Linked DNA regions of Homo sapiens. The protein of the gene in region 2 purifies or fractionates together with the protein of the main gene of each other region. This does not show direct contact. Each region holds a gene or a part of one and is shown on either strand. Other genes may lie near its edges. The genes, in order: PDPR, PCMT1, DERA, KCTD3, SHKBP1, KLHL24 and RAB3IP.

What was found.
Region 1: the proteins of PCMT1 (region 2) and PDPR purify together in Homo sapiens (affinity purification with mass spectrometry; 3 studies listed by BioGRID and IntAct, with this or other methods). This does not show direct contact.
Region 3: the proteins of PCMT1 (region 2) and DERA purify together in Homo sapiens (affinity purification with mass spectrometry; 3 studies listed by BioGRID and IntAct, with this or other methods). This does not show direct contact.
Region 4: the proteins of PCMT1 (region 2) and KCTD3 purify together in Homo sapiens (affinity purification with mass spectrometry; 3 studies listed by BioGRID and IntAct, with this or other methods). This does not show direct contact.
Region 5: the proteins of PCMT1 (region 2) and SHKBP1 purify together in Homo sapiens (affinity purification with mass spectrometry; 3 studies listed by BioGRID and IntAct, with this or other methods). This does not show direct contact.
Region 6: the proteins of PCMT1 (region 2) and KLHL24 purify together in Homo sapiens (affinity purification with mass spectrometry; 3 studies listed by BioGRID and IntAct, with this or other methods). This does not show direct contact.
Region 7: the proteins of PCMT1 (region 2) and RAB3IP purify together in Homo sapiens (affinity purification with mass spectrometry; 3 studies listed by BioGRID and IntAct, with this or other methods). This does not show direct contact.

The regions. Positions count from the first base shown.
Region 1 is NC_000016.10:70,152,332-70,155,831, reverse strand, and holds part of PDPR (pyruvate dehydrogenase phosphatase regulatory subunit, mitochondrial isoform 1 precursor), read right to left. Parts: intron 2,442-3,500; coding exon 2,259-2,441; intron 1-2,258. UniProt on the Homo sapiens protein: Decreases the sensitivity of PDP1 to magnesium ions, and this inhibition is reversed by the polyamine spermine.
Region 2 is NC_000006.12:149,791,241-149,794,740, reverse strand, and holds part of PCMT1 (protein-L-isoaspartate(D-aspartate) O-methyltransferase), read right to left. Parts: intron 1,193-3,500; coding exon 1,072-1,192; intron 1-1,071. UniProt on the Homo sapiens protein: Initiates the repair of damaged proteins by catalyzing methyl esterification of L-isoaspartyl and D-aspartyl residues produced by spontaneous isomerization and racemization of L-aspartyl and L-asparaginyl residues in aging peptides and proteins.
Region 3 is NC_000012.12:15,909,886-15,914,131, forward strand, and holds the start of DERA (deoxyribose-phosphate aldolase), read left to right. Parts: upstream 1-1,446; 5' UTR 1,447-1,498; coding exon 1,499-1,529; exon of another isoform or gene 1,530-4,246. UniProt on the Homo sapiens protein: Catalyzes a reversible aldol reaction between acetaldehyde and D-glyceraldehyde 3-phosphate to generate 2-deoxy-D-ribose 5-phosphate. Participates in stress granule (SG) assembly.
Region 4 is NC_000001.11:215,573,804-215,577,303, reverse strand, and holds part of KCTD3 (BTB/POZ domain-containing protein KCTD3), read right to left. Parts: coding exon 3,465-3,500; intron 3,238-3,464; exon of another isoform or gene 3,232-3,237; coding exon 3,186-3,231; intron 1,404-3,185; coding exon 1,330-1,403; intron 1-1,329. UniProt on the Homo sapiens protein: Accessory subunit of potassium/sodium hyperpolarization-activated cyclic nucleotide-gated channel 3 (HCN3) up-regulating its cell-surface expression and current density without affecting its voltage dependence and kinetics.
Region 5 is NC_000019.10:40,589,385-40,591,897, reverse strand, and holds the end of SHKBP1 (SH3KBP1-binding protein 1), read right to left. Parts: intron 1,655-2,513; coding exon 1,476-1,654; intron 1,169-1,475; coding exon 1,045-1,168; intron 923-1,044; coding exon 691-922; 3' UTR 501-690; downstream 1-500.
Region 6 is NC_000003.12:183,670,123-183,673,622, reverse strand, and holds part of KLHL24 (kelch-like protein 24), read right to left. Parts: intron 2,590-3,500; coding exon 2,401-2,589; intron 1,328-2,400; coding exon 1,139-1,327; intron 1-1,138. UniProt on the Homo sapiens protein: Necessary to maintain the balance between intermediate filament stability and degradation, a process that is essential for skin integrity.
Region 7 is NC_000012.12:69,821,280-69,823,699, reverse strand, and holds the end of RAB3IP (rab-3A-interacting protein isoform alpha 1), read right to left. Parts: 3' UTR 501-2,420; downstream 1-500. UniProt on the Homo sapiens protein: Guanine nucleotide exchange factor (GEF) which may activate RAB8A and RAB8B. Promotes the exchange of GDP to GTP, converting inactive GDP-bound Rab proteins into their active GTP-bound form.

The DNA.
Region 1 (3,500 bases), on a different chromosome or scaffold from region 2:
AAACTCTGTCTCAAAAAAAAAAAAAAAAAGACTTTTTTATATAATCCCAACAAGACCATGCACATCTATATTCAATGCATACACACATATATACACATATGTACAACAAATAAGACTAGAATAAACTATTAACGGTGATTATGGCCAGGCACGGTGGCTCACGCCTGTAATCCCAGCACTTTGGGAGGCTAAGGCGGGGGGATCTCCTGAGGTCAGGAGTTCGAGACCAGCCTGACCAACCTGGAGAAACCCCATCTCTACTAAAAAAAGAAAAAATACAAAAATGCCTTCTCATGCTCAAGTGATTCTCCCACTTCAGCCTCCCAAGTAGCTGGGCCCACAGATGCGCCACCACACCCACCTAATTTTTTGTATTTTGGTAAAGACAAAAAATACAAAATTAGCTGGATGGCTTACAGCTACTCGGGAGACTGAGGCAGGAGAATCGCTTGAAGCCAGGAGGCAGAGATTGCAGTGAGCTGAGATCGCGCCACTGCACTCCAGCCTGGACAACAAGAACGAAACTCCGTCTCAAGAAAGAAAAAAAAAATAGTTACTACCATTAAATAGACAAAATATGGGTGATTTTAATTTCCTTCTTTATATTTTCCAAAATGGGTTATTACCTTTTTTTTTTTTGGAGATGGAGCCTTGCTCTGTCACCCAGGTGGGAGTACAATGGTATGATCTCGGCTCACTGCAACCTCTGCCTCCCAGGTTCAGGCAATTCTCCTGCCTCAGCCTACCGAGTAGCTGGGATTACAGGTGCCTGCCACCATGCCCAGCTAATTTTTATATTTTTAGCAGATACGGGGTTTCACCATGTTGGCCGGGCTGGTCTCGAACTTGTGAACTCAGGTGATCCGCCCAAAACAAAAAAACCAAAAAAATTAGGCCGGGTGTGCTGTCTCACGCCTGTAATCCCAGCACTCTGGGAGGCCGAGGAGGGCGGATCACCTGAGCTCAGGAGTTCGAGACCACCCTGGCCAATGTGGTGAAACTCTGTCTTTACCAAAATACAAAAAAATTAGCTGGGCATGGTTGTGCATCTGTGGTCCCAGCCACTTGGGAGGCTGAAGTGGGAGGATCACTTGAGCATGAGAGGGCATTGCAGTGAGCCAACATCGCGCCACTGCACTCCAACCTGGGTGACAGAATGAGACCCCACCTCAAAATCAAAAACAAAAGAAAAAAACCACAAAAATTAGGCAGCTGACTATAGGACGACTAGTTTGTACAAATATTCGTGGCATGTTAATGCATCACCATAATTAACTCAGAATAGCTTCCCAGAAAGCACTCAGTCTTTTAGACAGCAGAACACTAGAAATAAGTGGGTTTTTTTGTTTGTTTTTCAATTGTAATTCAGAGACAAGGTCTTGCTGTATTGCCCAGGCTGAGCTCAAGTGATCCTCCTGCCTTGGCCTCCCAAAGTGCTAGGATTACAGTTGTGAGCCACCGCACCTGACCAAGTGTCATCTATTTACTATGTTTTCTTTTTTCTGAGACGGAGTCTTGCCCTGTCACACAGGCTGGAGTGCAGTGGTGCGATTTTGGCTCACTGCAACCTCTGCCTGTTAGGTTCAAGTGATTCTCCTGCCTCAGCCTCCCGAGTAGCTGGAACTACAGGTGCTGGCCACCACGCCCAGCTACTTTTTGTAAATTTTTTTTTTTTTGAGACGGAGTCTCGCTCTGTCGCCCAGGCTGGAGTGCAGTGGCGTGATCTCGGCTCACTGCAACCTCTGCCTCCTGGGTTCACGCCATTCTCCTGACTATAGGCGCCCGCAACCACACCCGGCTAATTTTTTGTATTTTTAGTAGAGACGGGGTTTCACTGTGTTAGCTAGGATGATCTCGATCTCCTGAACTTGTGATCCGCCCGCCTTGGCCTCCCAAAGTGTTGGGATTACAGGTGTGAGCCACCGTGCCCGGCCTACTTTTTGTATTTTTAGTAGAGACGGGTTTTGCCATGTTGGCCAGGCTGGTCTCGAACTCCTGACCTCAGGTGATCCACCCGCCTCAGCCTCCCAAAGTGCTGGGATTCAGGCGTGAGCCACCATTATTATGTTTTCATTTGAAGATATTTTATCCTATAAAGTTTTCATTCTCAGGGCACTCTTGTCCTCATTTACCTGATGCTAACATCAAGGCCTCAATCTTTTCCCCCTTTTCCTGTCACATCAGTTCTTCTTCCTAGTCTAGTGCAGATTCACTACTCGGGATGCTGAGTGAAAGTGGAGTCTGGGTAAACACAGTACCTTCTCTAATTTCACCCGAGACTCTCGTCCACATTCCAGGGGCGTGGTGAGGTTATTTATATCCTGACCCCAGAAGGCAAAAAACTTCTCAATTCGGAGACTGCGAAGAGCGTAATACCCAGCATTCCGGATTCCGTATTTCTGGCCAACACTCATCACTTCATTGTATACATGCAGGGCGTACTATAGGAAGAGACAGAAAGTTCATAAGCAGCAGACCTTCAGAATTAAGCATGGAGCATGTCTGGAAGCGCTGATGGCTCACACTATTAACATGGACAAGAGAGGAGGCGTATAAAACTCCCAGGATGTCTCATCCTTGACACGCTCAGGGCACAGCCCAGGAGTGATGAGCTGGGGTCACCCCAGCCTGGACTTAAGCTCCATGACAACAGGATCCATGTCTTTTCACCTCTCTAAAATGTCTTGTGTGGTGATTCTAGCTTACAGCAATTCTTAAATAATAATTTATAGAAGCTCTCTCACCATTTGGTAAATGGCCAATCTCATCATCATTTCTAAAACAGCCCACCAACCCTCCATGGTCTTCATCTGATTCTGGCTTTGTTCTTTTGCTCCAATTTCCCAACCACTGTTACTCCCTCACGTACTGGCCCAAGCTGTGAGGCCCAGCTCTCACACGTTACTCGAGACGTGTGCACACATCGGATGACGGCGGGGGAGCCAGGAAGGCAGGGCTCGCCTGCTCATGTCCCACAGCATTCAGGCTCTCAAGCTGCTCTTTTCTTGGTTTCAGAAACATGTACGTTATCAGATCAGTGAACAGAAGGTTTTCCAAACTGAAAGCAAATATTCAATCCCTGTCTGAACATACGCTGTTAAGTTTAAAGTCCAACAAAAATGAGACTACACTGTTTGCTTTTAAAACTGTAAAATGAAATCCAAAGCAAGACGTAGCAAAGAACCAGCTTCAGTGGTACTGCAGTTCTTTATCCTAGCACAGTATGTTTCTATGAACTGCACCACTGTAGCTGAACAGGCATCTACCAAACAGACCACTATGATCAAGACAACTTTATTTACTTATTTATTTTTGAGACAGAGTTTTGCTCTTTTGCCCAGGCTAGAGTGAAGTGGCGCGATCTCGGCTCACTGCCATCTCCACTCCCGGGTTCAAGTGAATCTCCTGCCTCAGCCTCCCGAGTAGCTGGTACTATAGGTGGCTGCCGCCACACCCAGCTAATTTTTGTATTTTTAGTAGAGACGAGGTTTCGCCATGTT
Region 2 (3,500 bases):
CACAGGATCAGGGCAAAGGCCAAGGCAAGCAACACCTCCACTTCCTCCTCAGCCAGATCCCTCTAGGGGATGGCTGTGGCTACTAGAGCTGCCCGGGCCTTTATTTTATTTTATTTGTTTTTTTGAGACGGACTCTAGCTCTGTCGCCAGACTGTAGTTCAGTGGTGCGATCTCAGCTTACTGCAACCTCCACCTCTCGGGTTCAAGCGATTCTCCTGCCTCAGCCTCCCGAGTAGCTAGGACTACAGGCGTGCGCCACCACGCCCAGCTTATTTTTGTATTTTTAGTAGAGACGGAGTTTCACCATGTTGGTCAGGCTGGTCTCAAACTCTTGACCTCATGATCTGCCCACCTCAGCCTCCCAAAGTGCTGGGATTACAGGTGTGAGCCACCGCTCCTGGCCAATATTTTATCTTTTAAACAAAACTGAGTGTGTCTGGGGAATACAACTGGATATTCATACACAAAAACATATAACTGCACCTTTACCTCACACATACACAAAAACCAACATCAGGAAGATCAAAAACCTAAACATGAAAAGCTAAAAATGATAAAGGTTCTAAGAAATAATAAGAGACATATCTTCATGGTCTCAGAGTATCCTTAAAAAGGACACAGAAAGCACTGAAAAAAATTGGTAAGTCTGACTACATTAAAATTAAGAATTTCTATTATCAAAAGGGTACCAATAAGATGAAAAGGCACACCTCAGATGGGAGAAGAAATGTATTTATATATATAGACAAAGGGCTAGAAGCCCTGTAAGTCAAAAATACAAGCAATCCAATATCTGAACAGGTACTTCACAAAAGACAAAATCCTAATGGTCAGACACATTACAAAAAATTCAATCTCAGAGGTTAATAGGAAAATACAAAATTAAACTCACAAAGAGATGGCTGCAAAATACACACTAGGTGAGCAAAAATAATCGTTTTTATTTTTTAGTACTTAAAAGTGATTGTAAAAAAAAATACAATAATTACCTCTGAGTATTATTTAGCTTGCATTGGATCTTCTGAAAATAAAAATCCTCTGAAGAAATTTTTAAAGTTTTCTGATACTTACCAACAAGCTGTACTCTCCCTGAAGACAGAAGTGTTGGATCGTCCTTCCTGACATTATTTACTGAGTCATCTACTAGCTCTTTAATGTGATCAATTCCTATGACTTTTCCAGTACATCCAACCTGGAAAAGAGAAAACAATTCAGTAGCTCATTGGGCTAAATTTGTTTTTCTAAAGTATTATTGAAGTTTTTCCTTATCGAAAGTCATATTCTACAAAGAGAAAACAAAAATAGCTTAAGGCTTCTATAGATTGCTAAACACTCAGTTTATCATAAATTATTTACCATATATACAACTTTCTCAACTATCACTCTCATTGAATAAAACTTGTAATACTAAGAAAAATTATATCTTTCTTAGATTAAATCTAGAACTTTGAAGAAAATTACCAATATTTAATAGTAGTACAATAATTTTTTATTTAAATTCCATCTAAAGTATAACTTTAAATATTAAAATGTTACATAAAGAATTTGACAGGGAGGAATTTCTTTTTTTTTTTTTTTGAGAGAGAGTCTCGCTCTGTCACCCAGGCTGGAGTACAGTGGCACGATCTCAGCTCACTGCAACCTCTGCCTCCCAGGTTCAAGCAATTCTCCTGCCTCAGCCTCCTGAGTAGCTGGGACTACAGGCCCCCGCCACCATGCCCAGCTAATTTTTTTGTATTTTTAGTAGAGACAGGGTTTCACCACGTTGGTCAGGCTGGTCTCAAATTCCTGACCTCGTGATCTGCCCGCCTTGGCCTCCCAGAGTGCTGGGATTACAGGACTGAGCCACCACACACCCTGCCTCCCGCCTGATGGGAAGGAATTTCTACACTTGTTTCTACTGCTTTTAGTAGAAAACATGAAAATATATACAGTGGCTCACACCTATAATCCCAGCACTTTGGGAGGCAGAGGCAGGTAGACTGCTTGAGCCCAGGAGTTTGAGACCAGCCTGAGCAACATGGCAAAACCCCATCTCTACAAAAGAATACAAAAACTAGCCAGGTGTGGTAGCATGTGCCTCCTAAGTCCCAGCTACTTAGGAGGCTGATGTGGTGTGAGGATCACTTGAGCCTGGGAGGCAGAGGCTGCAGTGAGTTGAGATCGTGCCACTGCACTCCAGCCTGGATGACAGACTGAGACCCTGTCTCAGAAAACAAACAAAAAGCAACAACAACAAAAATCCCTTCTTTGCATATTTATTTGTAAATTAAAATATTAAGTATAAATGTTTCAAGAAAAAATATAAAAATTTAAAAAATTAACACATAAAGGCTTTGAAGTCAAACTATCTGGGTTCTTGTCTAAGTGTCATCACTTACATACATACATACCTTGGCAAGTTAACCGTTCCTTCTTTTTTTTTTGAGATAAAGTCTCGCTTTGTTGGCCAGGCTGGAGTACAGTGGCGTGATCTCAGCTCACTGCAACCTCTGTCTCCCGGGCTCAAGCAATTCTCCTGCCTCAGCCTCCCAAATAGCTGGGATTACAGGCGTGTGCCACCACACCCAGCTAATTTTTGTATTTTTAGTGGAGACGGGGTTTCACCATGTTGGCCAGGCTGGTCTCGAACTCCAGACCTCAGGTGATCCACCTGCCTCGGCCTCCCAAAGTGCTGGGATTACAGGCGTGAGCCACCACACCCGGCCTATCATTCCTTGTATGAATCAGGTTCCTCAGTACAAAATGGGGAGGAAAAAGGCATAAACCCCATCATAAAAATGGGGTAGCACTTAGAACACAGGCTCTAGTGCTTAAAACACAAAGTACTTTCACACATGGTAAATGTGTGAAAAACATTAATGCCATTTTATGAAAAACAACTCAGAAACCAAATGATTTTTTAAAATGAATACATCCTCTAAAACTATAAACATGTCAAGTATAGAGAATGAGTCATTTATTAAATGGCATTTCTAACCTTAAAAAAAATCACTGATATCCATTAATGAGGACTTAACCTCTACAAAATGAGCAAAACATCTGAGAAAATATGAGTCCTTATTATGTGCCAGGCATTGTTTTAGATGTTTAGGATACCATCATGATAAAAAAGAGCAGACAAAATTTCCAACTCCCTGGAGCTTACATTCTAGTAAGTCTGCTGATTATACATTTATAGCAAGTTACATGGATTCTAGTCCAAGGTGGATCCACAACTCCCAATTTAACTAGATCAGAATATTCCAATCTGTCCTCCAGGCACGATATTTCTCAAATCAAACTGATGTGATGATCTAAGCAATGATCAACCTTTACTCCAACATATATTAGTGGGTCCCCAGTTAATACTCTGGATAGCCATTGACCAGATAAGACTCTGATGAGAAAAGGCAGAAGTATAACAAGGCATTATTTTTCTAAGAGCACTTTTTCTAATGCAGAAGTTTTACCTTCATCCTGGTAAATCTGCAGGAATGTTTAGAAACCAGGCTCATTCT
Region 3 (4,246 bases), on a different chromosome or scaffold from region 2:
ATTCATTGTGGTCACAATGGCCTTGGCTGATGCTGTGCTGTGAAATTGTATACGTTTAACCAGGGAAAACCATGGTCCAGTTGTGAGTTTCAGGCCAGCTCCAGGCTTTCAGGGCCTGCTTTTCTCTTTTTCAAGGTTAATATAAAAAAGAAAAGTGCTATAGTATGTATGAGTAAGATCTACACACATCCGAAACATTCAACAGTGGCTGTGTGTGGACAAGGCTGAAAGCTCAATGTAGAGGAGTATACAAATATTACTATTCCTATTTAAAACAGCTCAGTAATTACTGTGTGAACTTGACAATAACATTAACAGCTTCCATTTTTTAAGTATCTACTGTATGCCATGTTATGTACTAGGTGCCTTGCATACATTCAACAGCTTTGCAAGGTGAACATATTTTGATCATCTCCACTTTACAGGTAAGTAGACAGACTATTATTTCCAGAACTGCCAAGTTACATTTATTAAATGGAAGAGCTGGTATATTAATGGGTTCAGCTCATTTTGAGCTCACTGTATTTCCCCTATACCAGGATGCCTTTCTATTCAGAACTTTGATGTCTAAAGTTACAGCAATGGAGATAAAATACATTATTGGCAGGATTGTTCAGAGACTCAAATGCTATCATACATCTATATATGATGTATGAAAGCACCTAGCACAATAACTGGCTCATGGTAGACAAATCATAACTAACTGTACTGTTTTCATAGCAGAGGTGCCTCTAAACGTGAGTACAGATAAGTTAACTATATTGAGATTGTGGAGTGACTCGACGATTTTAACCTCTTGGTCACAGAGAAATCAGGCTGAAGCATTTTACCTTTATAGAATCATAGTATTTTGAAGAACCAAGAAATTGTCAAGGTCTTCTTTTACAGATGAGAAAAATGAAGCTCGGAAAAGCAGTTAATTTGCCCAGGGTCACACATTTAATTATTGCCCGAGCTTGGCTAAGAAACCAGGTCTTCTGACTCCTAAGCCCTTGCCTTCTTCAGGCCACATAGCTGCTTCTTTTCATGATGTGTAGATTAGAAAAGTCAGTGTGCCCCGGGGCCCTTGATTGCACCTTGGTTTCCCTAACAAGGATATGGGATCCCTGCTGACATTTCAGACCTTAAGTTGCAGAGCTCTGCACTTGGATCTTCTTCCTTCTTGTTATATAATCTTACAGTTAAAAGTTTCTAGGAATATTTTTATTACGTGCAATTGGCAACTTCAGTATTTTTTAAAGGGTGTTGGTAGCATTATTTCCGGGAGCTACTTAGCGCTCCGGTTCGGTACCTCGTGGAGAAGACGGGGGAGGGGAGCAGCGAGATTTCCTTGCGGAGCAATATTCCTAGGGTACAGACCTCGTAGCCCGGGCCCGCGACTCCGCCCCGGGAGCGGGCAGGGGCGGGGCGAGCGCTCCAGCTGGCGGGAAGGAGGAAGGGCCGGGCGCGGCGCAGAGGCGGGCGCCTACCAGCCGGCAGCTCCGGAGCTGCCCGCGCCATGTCCGCGCACAATCGGGGCACCGAGCTCGGTAAGGGGCCCGCGGGGCTCCCCATCCCCTCTCCCTCGCGTTCAGCGCCGCCGGGACTAGCGCGGGGCCTGCTGCCGCCCAGTGCCCTGGCTGTGGGTCCCCGAGGGGTTTTCGCTGGGGCGGGAAGCAGTGGCGTCTGGTCAGCCCTCACCCCAAGTAAAGGCCGAACCCGGCACGTTCGCGCCGCTTGTCTTTGCACCTAAGCTTTTACTCTTGTATGCGGAAGGAGTAGGAAAGGGTTAGATTATTATCTTCCTGCCTTTTCGTTCACTCTAGCTCGCTGGTTGGAAAACCCAACAACCCAAAAAACAAAACCCAAAACAAACAACCCCCAAGCAGGTAAAAACAGATAAAAACCTTCTTTCTCCTCCTTTTAATAGAATACTTGTGTAATTTAATGCAGTATTTCCGTAGATAATTTTAACCGTAACCTTGAAGTGGCCGTGCTCGTGGAAAAGTTGTCAGCCGTCTGTGCTCAAAATGTAACACTGCAGATTCATGGGATTTTAGAGTTACAAAGATTTGTTAAAGTACCTGTATTATTTCCCAGTTTTCATCTTTTTTTATATTGTTCAAATACTGGCAAGAAACCTTAGTTCAGATTTCTTTTTTTTTTTTTTTTATTGATCATTCTTGGGTGTTTCTCGCAGAGGGGGATTTGGCAGGGTCATAGGACAGTAGTGGAGGGAAGGTCAGCTGATAAACAAGTGAACAAAGGTCTCTGGTTTTCCTAGGCAGAGGACCCTGCGGCCTTCCGCAGTGTTTGTGTCCCTGGGTACTTAAGATTAGGGAGTGGTGATGACTCTTAACGAGCATGCTGCCTTCAAGCATCTGTTTAACAAAGCACATCTTGCACCGCCCTTAATCCATTTAACCCTGAGTGGACACAGCACATGTTTCAGAGAGCACAGGGTTGGGGATAAGGTCACAGATCAACAGGATCCCAAGGCAGAAGAGAATTTTTCTTCAGATTTCTTAACATGTGAAAAATTTATAATTCAAACAGCAAAACCATGATCAAGAGAAGGTTTAAGCGTCTCGTTTAAGTATTATAGCTTGGATATCTGTGTATCCAGGATCTTTAACTTCTTACCTGTGTGACTTCGGACAAATTAATAACTTTGCGCTTAAGTTTCTTCATCTGTAAAATGGTTATTTTAGTGGTAGTTACCTTATAAGGCCGTTAGGAGATTAAATAGGATACATGTAAAGTAGTTTGGTATATTGTGGACACCTAGTAAGTCTTCAGTATAGATAGTATTAGTATATGGAGTTATGGTTTTAGGGGCTAATTTTGAGAAAATTGGCTGTAAATTATATGTAACACATACAGGTAGGTCCTTTTCGCCCTCCTTAAAAGTGACTGGTACTTAAACAGTCTGCACTTCCAAGAGGTGTTCTGGATTTTTTGTCGAATGGTAAGAGAGTAAATCTATCATTTTAAAGACAGTTGATTTACTAACCTGGTTGATTTTGTTTTAGTCACTGTCCTCTAGCTGATTATGTTTTAAACTCTAGTCCTATCTCTGGAACGTGGTCTTTAGTAATAACGGCATTATTTCTTAGATTGGAATATCCTTGAAGGTGGTGGATATGGGGCAGGTTTGGGGTGGTGTCTTACCTGGGTATTCCCAGGAATATGACCATGTGACTATGCATACATCAAGGATGTGCCCTAAATTTCCCAAAACTTAGACATTTTAAATTTTTCTTTCAAAAAACATAATTGAACCATTTTTAAATTTATTTATTTGCAGTAATTAGAATCAATCACTTCCATTCATTTGTTGAAAAGTAATAGACATAAATAATTGCCAGGTAGAACAATAGTAAATGTGGTTTTTATGCAGCTATCGAAATGATCATAGCTTTGTATTTATTATCTTATTTGTTAAAATCAGATTTTTTTCCTTCACGGGTATTAATCCTTAATCCAAACAGGTTTAAACTGAAATGCTAAAATAAGTTATTTGAATTAGGTACTAGGGAAAAAAATCTTTCAGTATTAATTTATGCAGTATATTAACTGATGATTTTTAAAATAGTTTTCTAATTGAAAGTCTTTTTAATAAACATCGTAACTAATTTCTAAAATAAATTAACATTTTTGCTTCCCTTTTCTTATTACAAAAGGAATTCATGGTTATTGTAAAAATTCTAGAAAATACAGTTAGCACAAAAATGTTGTAATATTATTACTAGTCCAATCACTGTTATTTATGATTTGGTGTATGTACTTCTAGTTCATGGACTTAAAAAAACATTGAGTTCCTTTGAGACTAAACCTGACCCTCATGATTAAAAAGTCTTTAAGGAAAACATTGGCATTTGGATGTATGAAAGATGTTTTCCAAATAGGGAATGTACCCTCTAGCTTTCATATTAGAGGATGGGGCCCAGCATTCTGAGTTTTAACAAATCCTGTGGGTAGTACTGAAGCATACCCAAGTTTGAGAACCAATGGCTTAATGATCTCCAAGGTACTATCAAGTTTTGTACCTAGACTATTATGCCCTATATAGTCTATTAAAATGTACAGATATTCTTCTATTTTATTAGATGCCACTTAACTATTGCCTAAAATGCAGGTGTCACGTGGGTAGTGATCTTTCTTTTGTTCACTGATGTGTCCCAAGTACCTAGAATAGTGTTTGGTACACAGAAGGCCCTCAAAAATGTCTTGAGGCTGGGCATGGTGGCTCATGCCTATAGTCCTG
Region 4 (3,500 bases), on a different chromosome or scaffold from region 2:
TATTTCTATACATATCTATCTTAATCTCCCCAATTACACTATAAATTCCCTGCGAGCATGATCTATTTCTGATCTATGTTTGTATACCTCACAGTGCCTAGCATAGTGCTTGTATAAAATAGTTATGTAATAAATATTTGTTGAACAAATAAAATAGAAAAAAAAAAAAGACTAGCCTTGGGAAGGGCTATGTTATCCAGATGAAATGATGCTACTTCATAGTAGTAAAGTTAAGTAACATGAAATAAAATTTTTAAAAAATGGAAGATTCAGAACTTATAATACTAATAATTCATCTTAGGTTTCAGTTGTAATTTGTCCTTATTTTAAAAATATTCCCCAGCCTTGATAAATATATACAATTACTATGTTAAATTGTTTTTATTTGTGAAACTGGTTATGACTAGTTTAACATTAAAAATGCTTAAAACTTTGTGTCTGGGGGCGGTGGCTCACACCTGTAATCCCAGCACTTTGGGAGGCCAAGGCGGGTGGATTACGAGGTGAGGAGATGGAGACCATCATGACTAAAACGGTGAAACCCCATCTCTACTAAAAATACAAAAAAATTAGCCGGGTGTGGTGGCGGGTGCCTGTAGTCCCAGCTACTTGGGAGGCTAAGGCAGGAGAATGGCGTGAACCCGGGAGGTGGAGATTGCAGTGAGTCTGGGTGACAGAGTAAGACTCAGTCTCAAAAAAAAAAAGCTTCAAACTTTCTTATTCTATTTCGAAACTATTTGTGTTAACAGTACAGCAGTACTGGCCAGAGGCATGATCATAACTCACTGCAGCCTCAAACTCCCGGCCTCAAGGGATCCTCCTGCCTCAGCTTCTTCTCTAGAGTAGCTGGGATTATAGGCGTGTACCACCACATCCAGTTTCAGTGTGAGGAAACTTTTAATCAAAGTCTTAGTAAAAAAAAAAAAACCTTTTCTGGCTGGGCGTAGTGGCTCATTCCTGTAATCCCTGCACTTTGGGAGGCTAAGGCGGGGAGACTGCCTGAGCTCAGGCGTTTGCAATCAGCCTGGGCAACACAGTGAAACCCCTTCTCTACTAAAATACAAAAAATCAGCCGGGCATGGTGGCATGTGCCTACAGTCCCAGCTACTCGGGAGGCTGAGGCAGGAGAATTGTTTGAACCTGAAAGGCGGAGGTTGCAGTGAGCAGAGATCATGCCACTGCACTCCTGCACTCCAGCCTGGGCAACAGAGCAAGACTGCAACTCAAGGAAAAAAAAAAACAAACAAAAAAAACCTTTTATTTCATAAAACATATTAAAAACACATATTTATCAGTAAGAATTTACTTTAAAAAGAGTGCATTTCTTACCTTAAGTCTAGTTCTTTTGTCCGAAGAAAATTTAAAATGGGTGCAAATGCTGCTGGATCTCTATCAATAAATATCTGTAAAAAAGAGAACAGTTTTATTTTCAAATTACAAATTAATCTTTTAACTTTAATATCTGTAACACTAATAGGGAATGAAGTCTTAATTACTTAAATACTACATTTCCTTGTTTCCACTCTTAAACTTTAATGTTTCTAAAATTGGAATGTAGTCTGTGTGCATTTCATGAGATGGTGTCTTTTTCTTGAGATGGTGTCTTTTTCTTCCTCTGAATAGTTATTATTAAACTGATATTTTAATACATAGAAAAAATCTTGTCTAATAAAATCACTTGTATTGATACCTTTGGTAAAAGTGACACCTGAGGAAACATTTTTATCTGAAACAGTCTAGAATTCAATTAATACTTCGAAAACATGAATAAATAATACTTTCTTATACTGTTCAATCATTAAAACTACAATGTACTTTAATAATGCACACAGGGGTACTTGAGAAAAGTAAATACTGCACACTGCTGTCAAAAGTGGAAAAGAATACTATTCTCATAATACTTTTACTAATCTCAATTTCCTTCAGAGCTGGGGAAAGGTAATGACAATTTTTTTTTTTTAAACTAAAGCACCACAGAATACATAAGAGGAAAACAAATTGCTTAAAAATGTAAAATACATAATTGGTAACTTTTGTTTGTTTGTTTGTTTTGAGACAGCATCCTGCTCTCTCATCTAGGCTGGAGTGCAGTGGCACGATCTGGGCTCACTGCAACCTCCACCTCCTAAGTTCAAGCAATTCTCCTGCCTCAGCCTCCTGAGTAGCTGGGATTAGAGGCACCTGCCACTATGCCGGGTTAATTTTTCTGTTTTTAGTAGAGAGGGGGTTTCACCATGTTGGCCATGCTGGTCTTGAACTTCTGACCTCAGGTAATCCACTTGCCTCGACCTCCTAAAGTGCTGGAATTACAGGCATAAGCCACCCCACCCAGCCCATAATTGATAACTTTTTATGGAAATTTATACCAACACCTATTTTGAATCATTTACAAAAGATCTGGCCATAAAAACGGAACATCTTTTAAAGCTTATGTAAATCAATTAGAAAGGGAAATGGCAGCCAGTAATAAAACTCTTCCTACTATGATCAACTATATATATACAATCAATGAGATTCTTCTAAGCTTTATAAATTTTCTTTTGTTTTCATTAGAGCACATCAAAAATCGAAGAGACATCACAGATTTGTGGAGATCTTATTATTGATAACTTTTTATAATTTCACATGGACATATCTGCATTTGTTGCCTTATTTCATCTGCAAATCTCACCACAGCAAATAAATACCATTGGTCACTTTGTTGCCTCCAAATGGATAAACCAATTTTTTTGCACTGAAACTTTACAATTCTTTCCTTCCCTCACTGTACCAATGCTGTATAAACAAATTCGCAAGGTTATTCTCCAAAATAAAATAAAAAACTGTAGGAGTTTACTAATTTAACCTCTTATATTCTAATATAAAAATATTAGAATATTTACATTTATCCACTTACTGTTAAAGTTTCAATTATTGATCTAAAAAAATTTCTTCTAATGCCAATGTAAGCTCATATCCTACAATCTCTCTAATCATGAATACTTAAATTGCCATATATAGTATTCCCTACTTAGGGATCTTCTCTGATTATAAAAAACTACATATGACAAGAAATAAAATTATGCCACTTTCATTCAGTGATTATTAAAATATCAGTTCTCCTATATTCTTAGAGTAACTATATGTTAGGACCAAGCACTATAAGCATTAATTTAGGAATATGTATCAATTATTATTATACTCACAGCACCAGTTTCATCTCGAAGTGTTGAAATTCTCCCACTCAGCAAACTGGAAGTCATTAATAATCTAAAGTTAGTTTTTAAAATCTGAGTATAAACAAATGTGCTAATTCTTTACCAAATGTTAAAGACCACTAAAAGTAAGTTATCTATCTTCCAAGTTCAAAAATATATAATTTTAAGAGTTAACCTTTTTTATTAAAAAAAATTTAACTGACAAACATTATTATATTTTGGTAAATAAATGTATTAAAATATACACTAAAGAATTATAAGACATACCTGGAAAAAAAAGAATCTGGAATCCACATAAGAGTT
Region 5 (2,513 bases), on a different chromosome or scaffold from region 2:
GATATTCTGAATTAGTGTTTGAAGCCCCGGATCCAGCCATGCCTGAAGGCAGAGTAAAAGCCAACACATTCCTCCCCTGCAACACCTTTTTTGTTTTGTTTTGTTTTTGAGACAGGATCTCACTCTGTCACTCAGGCTGGAGTGCAGTGGTGTGATCATGGCTCACTGTAGCCTTGGCCTCCTAGGCTCAAGCGATCCTCCCACCTCAGCCTCCCAAGAAGCTGGGACCACAGGCATGCACCACCATGCCTGCTTAATTTTTGTATTTTTTTGTAGAGATGGGGTTTTGTTATGTTGCCCAGGCTAGTCTGAAACTTCTGAGCACAAGCAAACTGGCCTCCCAAAGTGCCAGGATTATAGATGTGAGCCACCATGCCTGGCCTCCCTTTGCTTAAACAAGAGAGGTAGATGTTCCTGATTTTGCATATATCGGGTTGGGTCCCACATCTTCCCCACCCCTTTCCTGGGGAGTCCCAAACCTGCTAAGAATAAGCAAGATGTTGGCAGTGAGGACTTTATTGGGGAGGGTGACTTTGGCTTCCAGAAAAGAGGGAAGGTGGGGACCTAGTAACAATAACCATTTATTCCAAGGAGGCCCTGGCCCTGAACCCGGGGTTCCCACAGGAATCAGGGAGGCACCTGAGTCCCCCAGGACCAGGGCATCCCAAGGCATCATGGCAGCTGCGTTGTTCAAAAGGAAGTTTCATTGAGCTTCATCTTGGGAGGTGTGAGGGGAGTGCCGAGACCGCTGGAGGGCCACGGGGCTGGTGTGGGTGGCCGTCGGAGGTCTGGCCCACTCCGCACCAGTTCCTGGCAGCGTTCCACAAAGCTGCCCCCACCACGGCGCCGGGCCTCAGCCTGCGGGGGGCTTGGGCTCCCACGGTGGCCAGACAAGGAGGTGTTGCTGGAGGCTGAGTGGAGGCTGAGGAAGTAAGGACAGTAAGTGCACGTCATCACGGGGCAGCTGGGCCACTCTGTCCCCGGGAACACCATGCTGTCCCCTCTCCCCTCATTGCACAGAAGGGGCAGTGGAGTTGTGGCTACCTGGTGAGGGAGATGCGGGGTGAGGGGCTGGGGAGACAGCCCCATGAGGGAGCTGAAGGAGCCGGCGGGGCCAGCTCACAGTGTTCCAGCTGTTCCATCAGCTCTTGCTCCGTCAGGCCACCTGCTGGGGGGCACGGAAGCAGGGTCAGGGGGCAAGACAGGGGTCATAGGGCAAGGGCCTGGGTTGCATTGCAGTGCAAGCACCGAGGGTCAGGACAGGAGAGAGGAAGCAGAGATCAATGCATGGGGGCCAGAGGCTGAGACAGGGGTTGAAAAACAAGGGCAGGAAGGGATGGGGAGCAGAGAGGGGGTCAAAGGAAAAGGGGTCAGAGGGCAAGGGCCTGGGAGAGAGATCAAGCAGTTGGCAGTGGAGAGTGGTTCTGGGTGAGGCTGTGGGGCTTGGGACGGGATTGGGGTGGGGCAGGGAGTACCAGGGGCCTGGCCGAGGCCGTCCATGGCGGTGGTTAGGTCCCACATGGCCAAGCTGCCGTTGGCCTGGCCAGTGAGCAGGTAGCGCCGGGGCCGAGAGCCGAGCCGCCGGGAGCCCTCGCACTCCAGCACTGTGAAGGCTGTCGTGGGTGAGCCGTCCACGGAGCGCACGGAGCACACCCTGGGGGGTGCAGTGGGGGAGGTGGTCACCCTCGCTTTCTCACCCTTCCTCGTCCCAGTCCCCACCACTGTGGCTGCAGTTCCTGCCTCTCCAGGGGCCATCCCAATCTTTATCCATCCCTAGCCTGCTTTTGAGTTCCAGTCCCAAGGGTCCAGCAGCTCTTGGACACCGCAGCCCCAAACACCCAGGGAGTCTCCCAGAGCTTCTGCTCTTCCCTGCTCCCACTGCAGGGAAGACCTGAGGCCCGTCCCAGCTGCTCCCCCACCTCCTATCAGCCTCCTGGCCTCCTCCCTGGGCTCCTGGCCTCCCATCAAGCCTCCTTTCATCCCCCATGCAGTGGCCACGGCTCCCCGCACAGGACAAAGCCTCAGCCCTTCCACAGCCTGACAAGGCCCGCCCGCATCTGCACCCCATCCTCACCTCCTGTTCTGTGCTCCAGCCCAGGAGCCCACGTGTCCTTCCCATGTGACCCTATTTGGCCCTTCTCAGCCTCTGCACATACAGTTCCCTCAGGCTGGGGCCCCCTTCCCCTGCCTTCTTTCTTCTGCTCCTTCCTACTTGTCCTCTAGGTCTCTGCTCAGAGTCCCTTCATCCAGAACATCCTCCGAGGCCCCTTTCCCAGCTGAAGCAAGGCTCCTACAGCTCCCTGGGTCTCCTCCATCCCATCCCGACCCCTGCCCCTGGTCCCCCTATCCCACCCCAACCCCTCCCCCTGGTCCCCCCATCCCACCCCGACCTCTCCCCCTGGGCCCCCATCCCACCCCTCCCCCTCCGCCTGGGCCCCCCATCCCACCCTGACCCCACCCCCTGTGCCTTCAACCTGGCCCTGCCTGCACTGGGCTGGCACTGCGCCAGGTCA
Region 6 (3,500 bases), on a different chromosome or scaffold from region 2:
GGGGAAAAGGCCTTTTGGGAGGTGGCAGTGTGGGTAGGGAGTAGGGCTCCGGTTAGAATACATGGATGAAAGAAAGGTGAGCACAGCCATTTCCTTTACAACAGAAATAACAGATTTCCCAGCCTCTAACCAAAGAAACAACAAGTTTGGGAACATTCCTCTCTTCTGAAATATGAAAGAGAGGGGATAAATACTGGAGTAGGATTGTGAAAAAAGTCAAGAGAAAAAAAAAAGAACAGCCCAAGTGTAACAGATACTTCTCCATGGGATGGTAAAAAGGAAGTTATTTCAATAAAATGACCCCTTGGAAGGAGTTCAAAACAGGTTGCCATATGCTTTATGTGGAGTTTTGAAAAATATATAAAATAATTCAAGCAAACATGAAATATTTTATTTTACTTATTTATTTACTTTTTTGAGACGGAGTCTCACTCTGTTGCCCAGGCTGGAGTGCAAGTGGCATGATCTCGGCTCACTGCAACCTCTGCCTCCCAGATTCAAGTGATTCTCCCGCCTCAACCTCCTGAGCAGCTGGGATTACAGGCGTGTGCCACCAAACCCAGCTAATTTTTTATTTTATTTTGTTTTATTTTATTTTATTTTATTTTTATTTATTTATTTATTTTTGAGACGGAGTTTCGCTCTTGCTGTCCAGGCTGGAGTGCAATGGCTCGATCTCGGCTCACCGCGACCTCCACCTCCCGGGTTCAAGCAATTCTCCTGCCGCAGCCTCCCTAGTAGCTGGGATTACAGGCAATGCGCCACCACGCCCAGCTAATTTTGTATTTTTAGCAGAGACGGGGTTTCTCCATGTTGGTCAGGCTGGTCTCGAACTCCCGACCTCAGGTGATTGGCCTGCCTCAGCCTCCCAAAGTGCTGGGATTACAGGCATGAACCACCACGCCTGGCCATAATTTTTTAGTAGAGACGGGGTTTCACCATATTAGCCAGGCTGGTCTTGAACTCCTGACCTCAAGTGATCTATCCACCTCGGCCTCCCAAAGTGCTGGGATTACAGGCGTGAGCCACCACGCCCAGCCTGAAATATTTTAAAATTGAAATTCCAGTGTATTAATAATGATTATGTACTTGGTCCCTCTTAGATTTATTTTTCTTTTGTACTGCTTTATGTTATTACCTGACGGCTGAATGTATTCTGTACGTGCATCCAGTAATCTTCAACTGGATCGTAACAGTATATTGCCTTGGTCAGTCCACCGGCAACATAGATCAGGTTGTTTAGGGATACAGCTGTTATACACCTTTTGGCAATTGGGATAGCTGCACGAAGTAGCCAAGAATTGGTTTCTGGATCATAAGATTGAACCTAATAACATATAAAAATATATAATTAAAATTTCTAAACAAAAATGGAAATGTACTTAATAAAGAATCTACCAATACCTACAAACATTATTTAAAATAAAATCCTATTAATTCAGAGAATTAAGAGAGGTTAGCCTGATAGTGAAATGTCTGAATTACGAACATTCTCAAATAAAATGCAAATTTATTACTATCAAGCAGAATAGAGTACCAAACACACAGATTGTTTCTAGAATGAATGGCCACCAGGTTTGTCCACTAAAATTAACAGTCTAAATCTTTTCACAATTGTGTTATGTAGGATAACTATGCCTCACATCTGAATATAACTTCTTAATGCTTTTAGGGAGTCCTTTCTTCAAAAGAAAACAAGTAAACCTCAATTCAATCAGTATGCTCTGAATTATCACAAATTCTGAAATAACAAATTCTAAATAAGTAACATTTGATCACATTATTTTAAACTGAATTTAGAAAAAGAATTAATAGACTGACAAAATTCAGTTAACAGTGCTAAACCAGCTAGGCATTAGATGCTTTTTTCCAGAATAAACATTTCCTGAGATGTCAGGATAGCACATATTCTTTCGTCCCAGAAGTTTACTGAACCGGAACAACTTTGAGCCATCCTCTATTTACACTAAGGAGGTTTCCTTTCCTTTTTTCTGAAAAATACTTCAAAAGTATGTAGAAAATGACCCAGTTGGAAGCAGCATATTTAGTTACTATGTCTTACCCTTTGCTAATTCACTTCTCAACTGTGTTTTGTATAAATAGTTTTTAGATTTTGTAGATGACAGCAAAGGCTCAGAACAATTTATTTAGTAGAAAACTTCTACACAGATAGTCTCATTTCAAAAAGATTGGATCACATTTGTTAGAGCAAATTGTTAGATATACTAGAGTCTCACTTTAGCAACCCAGAATTCAATGTTTTTCTCCAAAAGCATATAGTACCAGAAAATTTTTAAAAGACCCCTCACACTATGTGACCTGGCTACCTACTTGATAAGCCTTCTGTATTTCCCTTCTTGTACTTAATATTGGTAATTTCTTTAAAAGTGCATGGCTTACCTTATCAGAACAAGTATTATCATCAGGTCCTCCACCAATCACAAACAGTTTGCCTACACAGCTAGTCACTGCAGGAGAACTCACGGCTTCCTTAAGGGGAGCAACTTCAGTCCATCGATTTGAAAAGGAATCATAACATTCTACGCTGCTAAGTCTGTTTTGCCCATCATAGCCACCGACAACATATACCTATATGTAAAATACATGGAAAAATCTTAATTATCAAAAGTCTGAATTTTGAAGTAGTTGGCTAAAGAATTAAGGGATCTCTTCTCTTTAAAATGCCCTTGCTAAATAAATATAATTGCAATATATTTAGCTCAGAGTTTCTGAACCTTTTAAAAAATCATCATCCCCTACCACCATCACAATCCACGGAGCCTTTTTAGGTATTTTCTTCCTAATAGTCTTCCCTCAATAAAATTGTAATACCACAGAGAAATTGTGTATCTATTTACCTTAATGTATGTATATCTGTTCTTTACACAAGAAAGGGTACATTTTTTTTCATCTTCTAAGAAACAATCTTTGCCCCCTTGGGGGTAATACTGCTCACACTGAGAATGGTACAATTTAGCTTAAATATTCACACTTATGGGTAATGAAATATTTGATTATTATAAAGTATTAGAGCTGTGAAACTAAAATATTAGGAAAGAATTACTAGACTATGAGAGTGCTGGTCAGGCCTTTCTTTTAGTCCGTACAATACCTAGAAAAGTACTTGACACAAAATGAACTTTAAAGTTCACAGAGCTTTTATGTACATTTTCTTTTCACAAATAAGAGAAAGGTAGGGCAAATTAGTATCTTTATATGACAGGTGAACCAATCAGTAAGATATTTATTAAATGGCTTATATGCAAAAAATCCATGGTTTATATAGGGAACTTTCAACCTAACAAAGCTCTCCAGCAGCTTAACATCCACGTTTCTCTCTCTCTCTTTTTCTTTTTTTGGAGATGGGTCTCATTCTGTTGCTCAGGCTGGAGTGCAGTGGCATGATCACAGCTCACTACAGCCTCAACCTCCGAGGTTCAAGTAATCCTCTCACCTCAGCCTCCCAAGTAGCTGAAACCACAGGTGTGTATCACCACACC
Region 7 (2,420 bases), on a different chromosome or scaffold from region 2:
ATTTGTGCTCTTCATGATTTTGACTTTTTTCTATAGTCCAGGCTCATTGCCTTGTAGAATACCCATTTTCCAAATTTGTCTATTGTTTCATTATTAGAATTGTAGGTGACATAATTCCAAACATATTTTACACACATATACTGTTACTTGAAAATGAGCAAACTAAGTTTAGCTTAGAAAAGAAAAGGTTTAGGAGCTTCTTTTGACGGTCACACTGGCTGTCAGATCTATAAGGACAAGTCATCAAGTTGTTTAAAGAAATGAATTTTCAACAATTGTGTGAAGCTATCTGCTGGGTGCAGGAAATAAAAAAATGAATAAATAATAGTCCCTGCCCTCCATAAACTGAAATCTAGGGCATGAGAAAAACACAAGTGACTGTAACTCAGGGCAGACTGATAGCTGGGAAAATGTCTCAAGAGAACAGAGAAAGGACAGTAATTTAATCTGGGAGGATCTGGAAAGGTGCCACAAAGAGCTAGGATGTAGATACACTTAAACAGTGGGTGGGTCTTTTTTTTATTTTTTTAATTAACAAATAATAATTGCCCATATTCATGGGGTACACAATGATATTTCCATACATATAATGTGTAGTGATCAGATCAGGGTAATTAGCATATCCATCATCTCAAACACTTATCATTTCTTTATGTTGGAAACATTCAACAACTTCCTTCCAGCTATTAGCTATTTGAAACTACACATTATTGTTAACTACAGTCATCCTACAGTGGTACAGGATATATTAAACAATAAGTATATTTCTTAAAACATGAGCAATGGCTTGGAAGACAGCACAGGTACAGAGATTGTGTGCCTAGTATGGTGCGAGAGGAGATAGGAAAATAGGCTGAAGAAAGATGGTGGTAGTTTATTTCCAATTTTTATGGATACATAATAGTTGTACATATTTATGGGGTACATATGATATTTTGATACAAACATACAACGTATAATGATCAAATCAGGGTAATTGGGGTATCCATCACCTCAAACATTTATCATTTGTGTTGAGAACATTCCAAATCCACTCCTTTATTGTGAAATATACAATAAATTATTAACTGTATTTACCCTATTGTGCTACCAAACAACAGATCATATTCCTTCTATAGATTTTTACACCCATTACCCAACCCCTTTATCCTCCCACCCCCCAACCCCCATTACCCTTCCCAGCCTCTGCTATCCTGTTGTATTCACTACCTATAGTGGTAGATTCTGAATGTAATTTGATTCCATGCATATTCATTCTAAGTGTATCTATTGACAGTTTCTATCTGCTTGGGTGTGGGGCATGATACAATCCCATTTAACTCAGAGAGATCTCTGTGGCAGAATGTGTTGGCTGGGGCAATATCCAAAGTTTAAGCAGTTTAAGAAGCTACTGCAAAATCCAGGTAGGCTGTAGTAAAGCCTGAAGCACGCGATGTAAAACAAAGCAATGGTTACTGGCTGGATGTAGGGAGCAAGGATGAAGTCAAATGATTTTTTTTAAGGATTTATATGCCTTTAGATAAAATATGAATTAAGATGCCTAAAACATGTAGCCTCTGGCTAACCCTAGACTCCAAGAGAAGCTCCCAGCCAAGTCTCCTGGAGACCACCGGAAATGAGTCATCACACTATAATCCACTGCCAAGTAATGATTCTGGATCCCGTCCACCAATTCACCCACAGACTTCATGTTCTCAGCAGCACAGTGATGTGACAGGAAGCATCATAGAAATGAGATTTCATTTAATGGCCTGAGAAGCTAAGGTTAGAATTGGGGTTCCGAACTGAAATACTTCCAAGGCCCAGCAGATAAGTGAGTAAAGTGGGTCCCTTAGCCTTGGTGTCAGGGAGACAATCCAGGATGGTGGGCCATAGAGCAAACCATGGAGTGCATACCCTGAGCAAGGGTGTAGCCACCCGACAGGTGGAGTCACTCAGCTCCACCCAAGTGTTGTCATTCAAGACTGTGGGCTCAGTGTTGTCGAAACGGCACATTTTAAAAAAGAGCAGCTTGAAATGCAGATTTTAGATTTCCTCATTTTTAAATGCTGGCAATTGTTCAAAAACAAGATGGACAAACAGAAAAATAAACCAAAACACTGTGAAGGACAAATAGCACATTGTGTGAAAACACAATGGAGCCCACAAGATGCAACCCTGGTGCCGAGATCTGCGGAAAGTGAAGAGAATTGAGAAGGAAGTTGCTGGGAGGACTAGAAAATCTCTATTAATCAGAATCCAGAGCACTCCACTGAGAGCACAATCCAGCTGCTGGAAATAGGATTTAAGTGGAAATTCCTCCCTCTCAGTGAATAACAAATATGATGCGTATTTTCCTGATTATGGTCTTTACGTCTTACATTTTCCAACTCTCTTGATATCCCCATTTTGCAGAGTTTCGGTAGAGAATCATTCTCTTG